Regions from separate parts of the Homo sapiens genome. Here region 2 is linked to region 1. A link means that fine-mapping ties the variant in region 1 to the expression of a gene that starts in the linked region. Tissue or cell type: cerebellum. Region 1 holds a variant in brackets; the other region holds the start of a gene. All regions are shown on one strand. Distances are between the middles of the regions.

Region 1 (4,395 bases):
GAAAGTAGACTTGCCTCTATTGCTGAGTTTTCTTTTGTAGTTTTCCTTTGTTTGGTATTTTAGAATCATTTTGCCACTGTTTTACCACCAAAGGTTGGCACCTACTTGTTTTTTCCACAAATTAGGAACACCAAGCTCTTCTCAATTTTACTTTGAGGGTAATCTTAAGGTAATTTCTAACTGAAATGTTTAATGTAAAATTTGCTTAAATGTCCATGTGGGGATGTGTGCAAGCTGTATGCTGACCACACGCTGATGTAAACTGAGACCTAGTTCTGGGGAGGATGTTAGCTTATATATATATATATGGGATTTTAGAGTTATGAGCCAGGAACCATGGATGAAAACCAATATATATGTATCATAATACCACCAGCCACTGATGGGGACAGTCCTTTAGTCCCTTCATGTTGAGTGTTAACACATACTTGTGAAGGCATGTAAACCAGCCCTTCATTTTATCTCCCCATTCTAGACAACCGATGTTCTAATTAGTTGTTCTACTTCTCTATTACTAAACGTTTACTCTAAACTATCAGGCCACCCCCTGGTTTTCAAACACAGATCCCTTTCATCAAAAGAATATACAGGCCAGGCATGGTGGCTTACACCTGTAATTCCAGCACTTTCGGAGGCAGAGGTAGTAGGATCACTTGAGACCAGGAGTTTGAGACCAGCCTAGGCAACATAGCAAGACCTTGTCTCTACAGAAAAATAATTTTTACAAAAGGACATACAATTCAAAAGATATCGCCTTATTACTAGAATCCCACACAGTCATTAATAATTAGTCCAGTCCATCATTGTGTATGAATGTCTCCCAGAGTAAAGTCACTCAGGTTTGCAGGTTTCCTCTCAATCTTATCAGGTGCCAAAAACAGGAGTGGTCTTGGCACCTAGCCTCACCCTTTGAGGCATCTGGAATAACTGAGCTGAGACATCATGTCATCTTTTGCTCTGAGACTCTTTTGAGGTATTAATGTAATATTGAATTTCCTTCCATTAATAACCTTTTTTTTTTCTTTACTCTCAGCTACTTTTTCTCCTTCTCTCCATTAATACTCAAACTTTTTCACCTTTGGAAGGGACATTAGAATTGCCACTGTGCTGGTCTAGATTGTGGGCAGCAATACTAGTCTAGCAAGTAGCTCCTCCTCAATCCACCGCCATTCAGATAGGGTAAGGTTACACAGGTGCAGAACTAGTGAGCTAGTTTTGCCACCAGAGAACATAGCTGCATTCACTCTTGATCCCAATTTCTTAGATGGGGTGAAGGCACAACCCGCCCCCATTATCCCCTTAGGAATTCAGATACAAAGTTTAAAAATGTAGTTACAGCTTCTTGCTTAGAAATCATCCTTGCTTCCAGCACTTGTAGTTGTAGCCCTGGTCCTAGGATCATTGCATCAGGTAGAGGAGAGAAAAAAAAATTGAGGTTGTTTGGGGAAGAGAGAGAAAATTATAGTCATTATACTAGTGTACTCCTCCCTTGGCAAGAATTGCATAGTCATATCAGCATCCTCCCCAATCCCTCTTCCCAAATCAACCAAAAAAAAAAAAAAAAAAACAAACAAAGAAAACACAAAAATCTAGTGGGGACACTCCTTTAGTCCCATTCATGTTGAGTGTTAGCACCTACCTGTGAAGGTGTGTAAGCCAGCCCTTCATAATTTATCTCCCTGTTCTAGACAACCAATGTTTTATACTCCTTCTACTTCTCTATTACTAAACTATTACTCTAAGGAGGTATCTCTCTGCCCATTGTTGGATATTATGGCTTATACATTGTTCCTTGGTCTGAAGAAATGACAGTTTTCTGTACAAATCCATGCAAGTCTTCAGTTCTTGTTTTTTTATGGTGCTCTGAGCATTTTCATCTTCCACTAAGGAAGCAAAGCCCAGTCCACAGTCAGTGTCTAATTCCTGTCAAGACCAATGTGTAGCCCCCCCAGGGCTACCAGCATCAGTTTCACTTGCCAGCTCTGGTCAGGGCCTTCCCACCAGGCAATCTGCCCCATAGCCACTGGAAGTTTCTGTCTCTCTTGCTGACAAACAGGACAGTTCTTATTGGCATTCTGTGCCTGCAAAGATGCAAAAGGAACATGTTTAGATTCATCCCATCTCTGCACTGCTGCAGTATTCCTATATCCACTCACTTCATGGACCAGGTGATGACCACAAGGGCAGACA[C/T]GGAGATAACTGCTTGTCTATTCCAGTCACCTTCTCAGCCTGGGGAGGAAGTTCTTCTGATGGGCATTGACTTATTCTCCTTTAATGCACCCCTCAAATTTCTATAGGGCTATGCACCATATGGACATTCCTTTAATAGATCAGATTTCCATAGTCCTCTTGCCTGAGTGTATGGCCAGGCCATTGGTCACTGCTCACGAATCAGTAAAAACCCAAACATGGAGGCTTCTACTACTGTTCAGTTCTTCCATTACTGTAAGAAAGACAGCATGCAGTTCAGCCCCCTCAGCTAATCTGTTTTTACCTTCTTTGATCAAAGCAGCAGCCTTCCAAACAGGAGGATGTTGTCCATTCACTTTGGAAATGCTTTCTGTAAACAGAGCAGCTCCTTATTGGTCAATCAAGAGCTGTTCACAGTGCACTGTCCAAGTGTCTATAGAAACCAGCAGCACCTTACAGTCTGTGTCAGTCCTGGGGGTAAAGAGGCTCCCTGCTCATGAATATCTCCTTCTTGCATTCCCCAGGTGGCATGATCCCCTAGAAACAATTTCCATTTTATTGGGGAACTCTTCTGGGCACTGCCACTCCCTGTAGCATGTTTCTCTGCTGTCAGCTCTTCAATCAAAGCCTGCACATGCTTCCCTCCATAGGGCCCAAAGGGGCTCGGTGGGGCCTGACCACAATTTAATCACCTCTGTCCAATAGTTATTCTCATTATGATTTGTGTGAAATTTTCAAACTCAGTTGTGTTTGCCTGTGGGCAAATTGTTTATGCCAGTTATTTTAGGAGTATAAACAGCAGTAAAATCTCATATGAATGTCTAGAAGTGGAAAGAAGTGATGGTGGATATAGACATTGCAGGAGAAAATGTGGTTGCCTGGGGACCATTTTTGCAGGGATATGAGGAGTGGACAAAGGCATAGGCTGGTAATTGGCAAAGCCATGTCACACCCCTTAGGATTAGCAGTTACTGAAGGATATCAACAGTCACCTACCTGATAAAGCCACGCACCAGCTGATGGCTTCTCCAGTGCTGGGGTGGCTGTGCCGGTGGCAGGGACTACCGCAGAGTGAGGTCCTCACCTCCTGGAGTGATGAGGGGGTCTCACTCGCCATCTTCTCCCAGCACCTGCAGCTGGGGAGCTCACTCTGGCAGCTGAAGTTCTGACTTTTTACGCAATGATCAAGTGTTTTGATCCAGAAGTGATTTAAACTCCTAAATTCCTAGATAAAACTAGGCCCAGTAATCCCCCAAAAAGGCTAATAGCTCCTTCTTCTCTCACATAACTACTAAGAAATGTATCATTTTACAAAATAAGTTTTGAATTTTGTTTCAATTTTTGTTTTATCATGTGCTACCCTAGTTCCTTTATTCTTCATGTTATATTTATATACTGTGGAATGCATGTCATCAATTGTATTTTTCTTCTCATATTCTGACACTGATGATAATCTCAATGTTTGGAAAAAAAACTATTAAATAAAATGCTTCTGTTTTTGTGCATCCTCAAAGGACAAACTGCTCTACATATACTGTAGAGATGCTGCATTAGGATATACATATATTTCTGATCCATCCCACTTCTTAGCTTTATCTCCTAACTACTCCCTTAACCTAAAACTTCGCTAGCACAGAACAAGTTTACTCATTTTTCTACAATGCCACATTTAATCTCCCATCTGTAACTATCCTTCCCTTTCTCTAGGGTGCCCCACCTTTGCTCACATGGCTCTACTCTTTCTTCAAAGTCCCTCTTCCCCTTGGGGCTTTCCTGATGGCCCCGACGTCCTTTGACATGCAGGTCCACACTACGCTGTTGTTGTTGTTGTTTAATAGATATTGGGTCTCACTATGTTACCCAAGCTGGTCTTGAACTACTGGGCTCAAGTGATCGTCCCGCCTTGGCCTCCCAAAGTGCTGGGGTTACAGGAGTAAGCCACCACGCCCAGCCCACATAGCACACTTTTGACACCAACCACATGTTGTCTGGGATTACTCTCTTACATATCAAGTTGAAACATGAAATTGTCAACATAAAACTATTTTTGGCCTACAAAGACAGCAATTATATATGGTTCAATTTATGTGTCTTCTTACTCCAAATACAATTTGTTGCATTCTTGTTTTCTCTGATAGCCTCTTCCATTGTGTAGGTGTTTGCTATTAAAAAGAGATAGAGCTTGACTACTCTTAAATTGGCAAA
Region 2 (4,395 bases), 79 kb after region 1:
CATAAGGACCCATTTGCTTATTATTTCTGATGAGAAAATTGAAGATCAGAGGAGAGGTGAGGTGATCAGCCAGGACGCAGTTGATCAGTCACAGGCTCTCTTGCTGCCTCCTGCTCTGCTCCTGCCCCTTCCCCACCTCAAGCTGCAGGAAAACAGAGGAGGGTAGGAGAGGATACCCTGCCTCCCCCTGCCAATGCCTAAGACACTCATCCTTTCTCTTCCTTTGAGATCCCTGCCTCTGCAGTCCTCACAATTCCCCATGTGTTTCAGTCACAAGTAGCTTCTTATCTTCCAGAAGTCTGAATCTATGCCATTCTTCATTCAATCATTTGACAATCGTTCCTAAGGACCTACTGGGTCACAGCACTAGTAATACAAAGATGACCACTCAAATTAACTAGTAACCACATTACAACTGTTCTTGGTTGACTCCAAAGATACTTAATCACACCTTGAAAATGGACTTTTCCAATGCACTGTGATGTATGAGCAAGAAGGCTTGCTACAGTGACAATTTAATAGCAGAAAAAACAAACTAAGCTGTCGGTCAACAGAAGATGGTTAAATGAAACATGGTGTATCTAACTCACTAGAAACCCAGAGACTGTCTGAAAAAACTCTCTCAAAACAAGCAAACAAACAAAAACAGCTGTTACCTCTGGGAAAGTTTTTTCAGTTTTCTCTACACTTTTTTTTTTTTTTTTTTTAATAGAGACAAGGTCTCGGCTATGTTGCCCAGGCTGGTCTCAAACTCTGGGACTCAAGTAATCCTCCTGCCTCAGTCTCCCAAAGTATTGGGATTACAAGCATGAGCCACGGTGCCTGGCCTATACTTTTGTTTTTAATGTTAGGTATGTGCTGTTTATAACCTAAAATCTAAAACAAAAAAACAAAAATCACTATTCATGGGGGAGTGGAGGAGGAGTGTAAAGTTTATTTCTAAACTTTCATTTACTTCTCTAATCCATTTTGAAGACTTATAACACCTCCTTATAAGAACAATGAAACCCATTAGAGCAGACTAATAAATCAGTCTGCCTCCCAGAGAAAATACTGTCAAGACAGCAGGGTGAGAAACTATCCTAGCTTGGTAAGTCATGTTCCCTGGTTCCCAGCCTGCCAGTACTTGAAGCCTCATGGCCATTCAAAAACAAAACTAGAGACACACCTTTTTAAAGGGGGCAAACTTAAGAAACTCTCGAGACAAAGGAGATTAAATACCCATGTACAAGACTCCAAAGACTCTAGGCCTTGATCTAGACCCAGTTTCCAAATTTTGGAGGGAAGCATTGTCCTGGGGAACAGCGGGCACTGAAATGGGGCCCAGCATAGCCCCAGCGCCCTGCCAGGCGGCGCTAGCGGGGATCACCCGGCTGCAACTGCGAGGGGCTTGGAAGAATCACCTGCGCCCGGTTCCCTCATCTCACAGCTGTAGGCGACCAGGAGCCGCAGCATGCATTCATCCAACTGTATGCCAAGCAATTCAGTTCATCCTTACCAGGACCCTGTTTCACAATAGGAAGCCCGAGGCCGTGAAAGGCCCAGTGTCTTGCCAGAGTCAGAGGAACAGAGCGCTTTGGGGACAGCTTTCTCCACCTGTCTCAGTGGATGGGCTCGTACCCGCCTCCAATCTGCTCACCTGTTCGTTCCAACCGTGCAGCTGGCTGTAGCGCACCCTGCAGAAGAGGAACCCGTCCAGGTGCACGGAGTACAGCTGCAAACACACAGACACCCCGTCCCTGGTGAGCCGAGGGATAAGTGAGCATTGCCACCGGCCCCCTCCCTGCCCACCCTGACCCCAGCCCTGGGCGCACCACGTAGCGGCCCCCCAGCGCGTCGGACCGCTGCTGGGACACCGGGATACAGAAATGCATCTTCATGGCTGAGCGGTGTCTTGGGAGTAGCGCTGGGAACCCGACCTGCGGCGGCGGGCGGTGCGCGGCTCTGAACTCGGCAGCGGTGGACGCAGCGCGGCCTGCCACGCGACTCAGAGCGAACCCCGGCGCCCGCTCTCGCCGGCCGGGGACATCTACAGGTGGGGCCGGGGCCGGGCCGCGCCGCCTCCCAGTCCCCGCCCCATCCAGCCCCGCCGCTCTGGTCCCGGGATAGGTGGCGCCTGGGGCTGGGGCGCATCCACGGCCACCCCCACCCCGGACATCGGCCACTGTTGGCATTTTCTCCAAGAAGGCCCGTGAGGGGCTTGAAAACAGTTTGTGTCCCATTACCTGCCAACGCTGCCTGCAGTGCACTAATTAAGATTTCTGTAATTACATAGATCTAGTAACTGCCTTATGATTAGCAGAGTTATGTTTGGTCAGTTTTTTTGTACTGACATTTGTTAAATGTAACACAAGACATGCAGCAATATATGCAACCTTGCTTTCGTATTATTCTTTCAATCTTGTTTTTTCCCCTTAAAATACCAGAAGCCCCCCCCAAATGGAAATGGCTTGGGTTTCTCTTGATCCCTGAGAAGCCCTCATTTTTAGACAGGTGCATTCACATAAACACTTGGTTCTCTGGACTACCCAGTGCAAGTTCTTTCAACAGTCTCTCATTTTTAGTTGCTGTGGAAAATAATCTTCCTAATTCTCTATTTTAGTTAAATGAAACTAGAATTCCTCCCACCTTGCCGTGATCACAGAGCACAGAGATGCTGCAGCTCTCACCAGCCTGTTCTGTAGCAAGCCTGGGCTGGCTCCGTTCTTCCCTCTCTCCTTTAATCTACCCGTAACTCTTCCAGGTAAACAGAGGACATCCTACCACGGACAAAACAGGCCCAGGGGGTGGAGGAACTTGTCCAAGCTCACAGGGCATTTTTTTCATGGGTCTGAGTCGTTTACTGCAGGATTTCATCAGGATCATTGAAAGTCCTTTCAAATGCCAGTCATCCCTGGGGTAAGAGCTGCATGCCTGAAACGGGAATCCGAGACTAAGGAAGGAGAAGCGACGCCTGCCAAACACCGGTGCCTCCTGCGTGCTTGCTGGGTGCCAGGACCTGACATATGCTATGCCATTTAATTTTCACAAACACCTGTGGGCTAGGAGCCATTGACAGTTCTGGTCTTATAGAAAAGGAAATTGAGGCTAGGGCCATTAAGTGAGGGAAGCAGTATCATATAGTAGTTAAGAGAATGGCAACAGGAATTCATGTCCCAGCTTAGTGGCTTCTAGTTGAGAGGCCTTGGGCAAATTAGTGTTTTTTGTGTTTTTTTGTTTTTTTTTTTTTTGTTTTGAGACAGAGTTTTGCTCTGGTTGCCCAGGCTGGAGTGCAATGGTGCGATCTCAGCTCACCACAACCTCTGCCTCCCGGGTTCAAGTGATTTTCCTGCCTCAGCCTCCTGAGTAGCTGGGATTACAGGCATACGCCACCACACCCGGCTAATTTTGTATTTTTAGTAGAGACAGGGTTTCTCCATGTTGGTCAGGCTGGTCTCAAACTCTTGACCTCAGGTGATCTGTCCACCTCGGCCTCCCAAAGTGCTGAGATTACAAGTGTGAAATTAGTGCACTCTTTAAGCTGCAGTTCCTTCTTATGAAATCATGTTAATAACTCTACTTACTTCAAGGGAATTTTCAGTCCAGGATAGATGGGCCTTAGGGTATTTCCCCTGCCCATAGGCCATCTCTGATCTGGAAGGCCTCCCTATACCAAGGCCAGGGGTATTCCTGAGTGCCTCTTGGGACAAAGCCTGATCACGGCAGCTCTGGAATCTGGTCTGATCTTCAGGGCAAAGCAGAGCATTTTGGTCAGACCCAGAAGTGGCCCCAGCTTTCCTGGAACTTTCCTGCTCCAGTGAATGGCCTGGACCCTGGTTTCACCCCATGGCATGTCCAAACAGGGCCATTTCCTTCCTTTCACTAAGTGCCCCCCTGGAGTTGAACTGGAACAGGACAGGCCTCTGTGCAAGTCACCGTCCTCTTGCATCCCTGACCTCTGCTGTAGCCAGTCAGCTCTTATTCAGTCATTCAGTCAGTGAACATTATTGAGCTCCTTCTGTGTACTCCACACTGTGCAAGACAATCTTCAAACATGACCAAGAGAGAAGTATAATAATGGTAGCAGCGATTGGAGGCGCTGCTCTGAACACTTTACATGAATGAAGTCATTTAATTCTCACAATTGCCTGAAGTAGGTACTGATATTATTCTCATTTCACAGATGGGGAAACTGAAGCATAGGGCAATGAAGAAACTTGCTCTGAATTGCAGAATTTGTGAATAGTAGATGGGGGATGTGAAGTAAGTGATCTGCCTCTAGAGCCTGTGCTCTGTGAAGCTGCTTTTCAGGGGTGCCTGGGGAAATCTGTACCACGACTTGACAAGCGCACCCTTTACAAGTTTTTAATTCTTTTTTTTTTTGAAACAGTGTCTTGCTCAGTCACCCAGGCCGGA

Evidence for each region. PIP is the estimated chance that this variant, and not a neighbour inherited with it, causes the effect. A credible set is the group of variants that fine-mapping cannot tell apart.
Region 2: it holds the start of SNX31, and the variant in region 1 is the best candidate, but not a certain one, in a credible set for the expression of SNX31 in cerebellum (GTEx, PIP 0.58).

Annotation. Positions count from the first base shown.
Region 1 is chr8:100,568,249-100,572,643 of GRCh38, forward strand. No RefSeq gene overlaps it. Among named protein-coding and RNA genes, the nearest start is that of ANKRD46, 11 kb to the left of the region's middle. The variant C/T (reference allele first, on the strand shown) is at 2,191.
Region 2 is chr8:100,647,635-100,652,029 of GRCh38, forward strand. It overlaps SNX31 (sorting nexin 31), which reads right to left and starts at 2,031. Exons shown (of 14, transcript NM_152628.4): 1 at 1,815-2,031; 2 at 1,640-1,714. The coding sequence starts at 1,880.